Regions from separate parts of the Homo sapiens genome. Here region 2 is linked to region 1. The links come from fine-mapping of genetic effects on gene expression. Tissue or cell type: adrenal gland. Region 1 holds a variant in brackets; the other region holds the start of a gene. All regions are shown on one strand. Distances are from middle to middle.

Region 1 (2,750 bases):
CCGTGGGCTGCTGGCACGGGGCAGGGTCGAGCGGCAGGCAGTGGGGCTGCAGTGCTGAGCCGGCTCCTGCCTCTCCTTGAGCCACCAAGGCCTGAGCTCCGGGTCCAGCCCACGTCTCTTCCTCCAAGAGGCTCTGGAGCCTCTCGCCCTCTGTGGCCGTTCCCTGCGGTGCTCAGCCTCTGCCTCTCCCTCTCCCTCTGGGGGGTCCTGTACCTCCAGGGAGCTGGGAGTCCTGCTCCTGGAGTGGGGCAGGGGTACTTCCTGGGGAGGCTGCCTTTGGGGTGAGATGTCACCCCTGGACAGGCGGAGGGGCTGTCCCTGGCCCCAGTGCTGTGTGTCCTTCGCCTCCCACCGCCCTGACCACAGCCTGCCTTTGCAGCCACCGTGGTGTCCGTGAGTCACATCTACTCCTCCCAAGGTGAGCTGCCCTGAGGGACGTGGTCACATGAGGCCCAGGGGTGTTCCTGGGGTGAAGTGGGACAGCCCTGGCCCTCACGTAGCACCTGACCTTTCCCTTGGGCAGCCCTGGGCTGGGGAAACGTCCTGGTTTGGTTCCTGCCCTGGCACCGTGGGGGCCATGGGACAGGCTCCCCCTGAGTCCTGGGCTCCTGCCGCAGGCGCGGTAGTGTTGGACGTTGCCTGCTTTGCGGAGGCCGAGCGGCTGTACATGCTGCTGAAGGACATGGCTGTGCGGGGCCGGCTGCTCACTGCCCTGGTGCTCCCCGACCTGCTGGTGAGTGTGCGGTCAAGCCGGCTCTTCACACACCCCAGGGGGTGGCCAGAGGGAGGTCGGGGTCTGCAGGTGCACAGGCCCCACAGCCAGACTCGCTGTTTTCATCTGGCATCACTTCCTTGAATTCACTGGGGGCTTGTAGGTGCCACCTTGTTTGTGCCTCACAACAGCAGGAAGGACTCTGTTGCCCGTTTTACAGCAAGGGGCCTGAGGTCAGAGGGTCAGCGCTCATCCGAGGCTGCCCAGTAGGTGATACCAGCTCCGTGGGGCACCGTGGGGTCAGGCCCAGCTTCCACGCTGCACCTGAGGCCTCCACCCAGTAGGGAGGCCCACAGGACGCAGCTCCTGGATGTGCCGGGCCCCGCTGCGGCTGCCTCGCCAAGGGCCAGAGCGTGTTTGTGACCAGCTGTCAGGATCCCAGGCATGGCCCTCCCGGTACAGCCTCAGCCTCACTCCCCCTGCCCGGGAGGCCTTAGGGCCTCTGCTCTCTGCCTGGAGCTCCCCAGGCCAGTCAGTGCAGCTCCCAAACTTTGAACGCTGCCCTTCAGACCCACAGTGCCCAGAAGAGGGGGCACCTGGCAACAGGGCAGGGCTGGGGGAAAGGGGGATCTGGAACATGGAGACAGGGCAGGGCCGGGGGGAACGGGGGTCTGGTCCGTGGAGACAGGGCAGGGCCGGGGGGAACGGGGTTCTGGCCCATGGAGGGGCTGGAGCCTGGGACTCCACGCTGCACACCGTGCCTTCACATTGGCCTCTCGTCCTCAGCCCATCTAGCCCCCAAAGGGTCCCATGAGGACCCCCCAGGTGTCCATGGCTGTTCTACCCCTGAACCTTGACCCTTGATCGTGACCCCAGTCCAGGCGAAGCAGAACT[C/G]GAGCAGAATGAGTTGTCTGTGGCTGGGACGGGAGATGCCTGTGGCTCCCTGCTATGCCTCCCTCCTGTGCCCCTACACCCGGCCTTGCCTGGCTCAGGACAGGGTGGCCATCCCCACTGTCCCGAGGATGCAGCCCCCACCCCAGCTCCACTCGCTCTGTGGGCAGAGCCAGGTTTGGGGCCGACACGCGCTTTCTCTCTCCCGTCAGCTGCCTGCCCTGGGGTGAGTGGTAAGTGGTGACCGCAGGCGGCTCTGCCTGCCAAGTGGGTCACGAAGCCCCGAGTGTGTCCTTGCCCCCAGCCACGGCCGGCCCCTGTGCCGCTGCCCACCCTGTGTCTGCACCCAGCCTGTGTGTCTCCTGTTGCCCAGCCTTCCCCGCTGTGGGGGCCCCAGCCTCCTGTCGTAGGGTCCCTAGCCTCCTGTCGTAGGGATCCCAGCCCTGAGCCCGCTGTGTCTAGATCCCTGGGTACTGTTTCTTGGGGTTGTGTGTGGGGAGATGGACTCTGTCCTGTGGTCGAGGGACGCCGCGTGCCACCCTGTGAGTTAAGAGCTTTTCTCGGCTGCTGTGTAGGTGGGCGGTGGCCTGGGAGCCGCCATCCTCCAAAGGTGTGCACCAGAGGCCCCCCAGGGGACAGGCCTTGGTCTCGCTGGCACAGAGTGCCACGCAGAGTCCCACGTGGATTTCCAGCCTGGACTCGCGCTGCATGGCCCAGGCGGGTGTGGTCTGTTCACACGCAGCTCAGTGGGCAGGTCTGAGGCCTTTGTGCTGGGAGTGCCAGGCAGCCAGCCGGCTGTCCTCAGTGCCGCCCTGCTGGCCAGCAGCGAGATGGGGTGACCACGCAGCTCATGTGTGAGGCCTCAGATGTGAGGGTGCTGGCCACGCCTTCCTGGGGAGGGGGCTGGTCCAAGCCAGGTGGGCTCAGGGTTGGGGGCTGGGCACTGCCTGGCAACCCCAGCAGTGGGGACACCCCACCTTGGGTCCCCATCCTAACCCAGCCCCCTGTCTGTCAGCACGCGAAGCTGCCCCCAGACAGCTGTCCCCTCCTTGTGTTCGTGAACCCCAAGAGTGGAGGCCTCAAGGGCCGAGACCTGCTCTGCAGCTTCCGGAAGCTACTGAACCCTCATCAGGTCTTCGACCTGACC
Region 2 (2,616 bases), 29 kb before region 1:
TTTTAATTTTTTAAAGGTTGGGGGGCAGGGGGCGGCCGGGTGCAGTGGCTCAAGCCTGTAATCCCAGCACTTTGGGAGGCCGAGGTGGGTGGATCACGAGGTCAGGAGATCAAGACCATCCTGGCTAACATGGTGAAACCCCGTCTCTACTAAAAATACAAAAAATTAGCCGGGCGTGGTGGCGGGTGCCTGTAGTCCCAGCTACTCGGGAGGCTGAGGCAGGAGAATCACTTGAACCCGGGAGACAGAGCTTGCAGTGAGCCGAGATCATGCCACTGTACTCCAGCCTGGGCAACAGAGCGAAACTCCGTCTCAAAAAAAAAAAAATTAGCCGGGCGCGGTGGCGGGCGCCTGTAGTCCCAGCTACTCAGGAGGCTGAGGCAGGAGAATGGCGTGAACCCAGGAGGCAGAGCTTCCAGTGAGCCGAGATCACACCACTGCATTCCGGCCTGGGTGACAGAGCAAGACTCCGCCTCAAAAAAAAAAAAAGAAAAGGTGGGGGGCGTCTCACTATGTTGACCAGGCTGGTCTTGAACTGCTGGCCTTAAGCGATCCTCCTGTCTAGGCCTCCCAAAGTGTTGGAATTACAGGAGTGAACCATCGTGCCTGGCTAATAATTCCTTTTAAAAAGCAGCTTACCCTTATTTTCACGTGTGGGCCTAATTTAGTTCACTTAAAAAAATCATTTATCTTCACCCCAGCCCTATGAGGCAGGCACTGCCGGTCCTGGTCTGTGGTAGAGGGGAGGGCAGAGGAGCCGTGAGGGTGACCAGGCGCTGTGGGTCGGTGCTGGGTCCAGTCAGACCAGGACTCCTGGCCAGTCACGGCACCTTGACCCCGGCAGTCCTCGCCCTGGGCGGTGAGCACCACACACAGGGCTTACGCGAGCACACACGCATATGCACGCACCGGCAGCCTTGGGCTGAGCCGGCTGTCAGCCTCTGCCCTGCTCCAGCTTGGACCAGGCTGGCTCCTTGCAGGACCAGGAGGGTGTCCGGCGACTGGACACGGAGACCAAGCCTCCCTCAGCCCCGCCTGGGTTTGAAGGCTGCTGCACTCGACCCCAGACCCCAGAGCTGAAGGTTTACCTGTGCTCAGCCCCTGAGCCCCCGCCTCCCGCTGGTCCCTAAGCCCCCCCGGCAGGGCCGCAGAGCCACAGCTGCAGCGGCTCCTGGGAGGCTGGGAGCTCCTCAGAGGCCCACACAGCTCTAACTCCTACAAGCCCCTGATTACAGTTCAACTCCCGGATCAGCCGATCAGGTAACATGGCTGGAGAAACCCATGACTCAGCAATCTGTAGGTAAATAATTGAACTACAGAGTCCAGGGCACAGACCACTGCCTGCAGGTTGGCGCCACCACCCCCACTCTCCCCGCTGCTCGCGGGAGCCAGAGGGCCCTGCGGTCCTCGGTGGTCTTGCCAGCCCCTCGTCATCCCAGGGCCCTCCGCGCCTGTGAGGACTCCCTCAGGTAAGAACCATCCTGGGCCCAGATCTCAGCTGCAGCAGAGGGGGGCGTGGGAGCCGAGGCCAGAAATGCCCTGGACTCGTGGTTTCTTAGGGGCACCCTCAGGCTCAAGGCAGGTGGCCCTACTGTCCCCATTCCACACACCTGGACCCCAGGGGCTTGGGGTGGGCTTCAGGGCATCCAGGGACCCAGTGTGGTGGGGTCTTCCAGGGAAGGGGACACAACTCTTGCAATGTTGCCTGAGGGCCAGGACCCCCGCTCTGTGCCCCAGGGGTGCTGTGCCCAGCCTGCATGTGTCAACCTACCAGGCTGGGCTCACTGCCCCAACACACCCGCCAGGAGACTGGAGCTCGCACACCCTGGGCCAGCGTGCAAACAGCAGGCTCAGCCCAGGCTCCAGGGTGTCCTGGGCACCTGGTGTCCTGGGAGCAAAGTCTTTGCCTAACGTCGCTGAGAAGAATGTTTAAAGTGAAAGTACATTGGAGTCTGCAAACAGGACAGACCCGAGGCCTCACGTGGGACCAGTCAGGCCTCTAAGCACCGCCTCCCTAACGCCACGGTGTTTTCCGAGATCAAGGGAAAGGTCAGGTGCCCTTCCGGCTCTGCCGGCCCAGGGTGACTGTGTGCAGCGGGCTGGGCCCTCTCGGTGCTGCCTCGGGACAGTGTGTCATGGCCGTTCCACAGTGAGCTGGTGCAGCCTGGGAAAAAGGGCGCCTCACGTCCCAGAACTGTCTGGGCAGGGGAGACAGACGCCAGTCACCCTCCTCCCCTCCCAGCTGGCCCTGATGGGGCCCCCGTCCAGGCATATTCTCAGAATTCTGTCCCAAGTCCAGGCGGATGGGCTAGGCTAGTGTCTGAGTGCTGCTCCCCCAGCAGACTTGGGGTCCCAGTACCCACAAAGCTTGGCAGGGACATAGGAGGCCTCTTCCTGAGACTTCCGCCAGCCCCAGGACCCACAGGGCAGGTGACAGAGGGGTGGGTGGAGGTGTCTCCAGGAGAGCAGGCGATGGTTTGGATGGGGGAGGGAGGGCTCTGGTGTGGGCATGGGGTGGACAGCAGGACCGTTTGCCAACCTGGGGAGCCAGGGAGGTGGACACGGAGCAGCTGGACTCAGGCTTGCCTGCACCTGTGTCCAGTGACTGTGACATTC

Which allele goes with the higher level. Positions count from the first base shown, and alleles are read on the strand shown. Sizes are in standard deviations (SD) of each study's normalised expression.
As copies of C replace G in region 1, the expression in adrenal gland of the gene that starts at base 1,366 in region 2 goes up (moderate effect, 0.67 SD a copy in GTEx).

The links. PIP is the estimated chance that this variant, and not a neighbour inherited with it, causes the effect.
Region 2: SLC26A1 starts here. The variant in region 1 is fine-mapped to the expression of SLC26A1 in adrenal gland (GTEx, PIP above 0.99).

Annotation. Positions count from the first base shown.
Region 1 is chr4:963,159-965,908 of GRCh38, reverse strand. DGKQ (diacylglycerol kinase theta) reads left to right here. Exons shown (of 23, transcript NM_001347.4): 14 at 380-418; 15 at 618-733; 16 at 2,619-2,750. Among named protein-coding and RNA genes, the nearest start is that of DGKQ, 9.0 kb to the left of the region's middle. RefSeq lists a silencer at 2,297-2,456. The variant C/G (reference allele first, on the strand shown) is at 1,607.
Region 2 is chr4:992,154-994,769 of GRCh38, reverse strand. SLC26A1 (solute carrier family 26 member 1) reads left to right here and starts at 1,366. Exons shown (of 3, transcript NM_022042.4): 1 at 1,366-1,469. The region is part of intron 2 of IDUA (alpha-L-iduronidase); the gene reads right to left. RefSeq lists enhancers at 406-1,217, 1,218-2,029.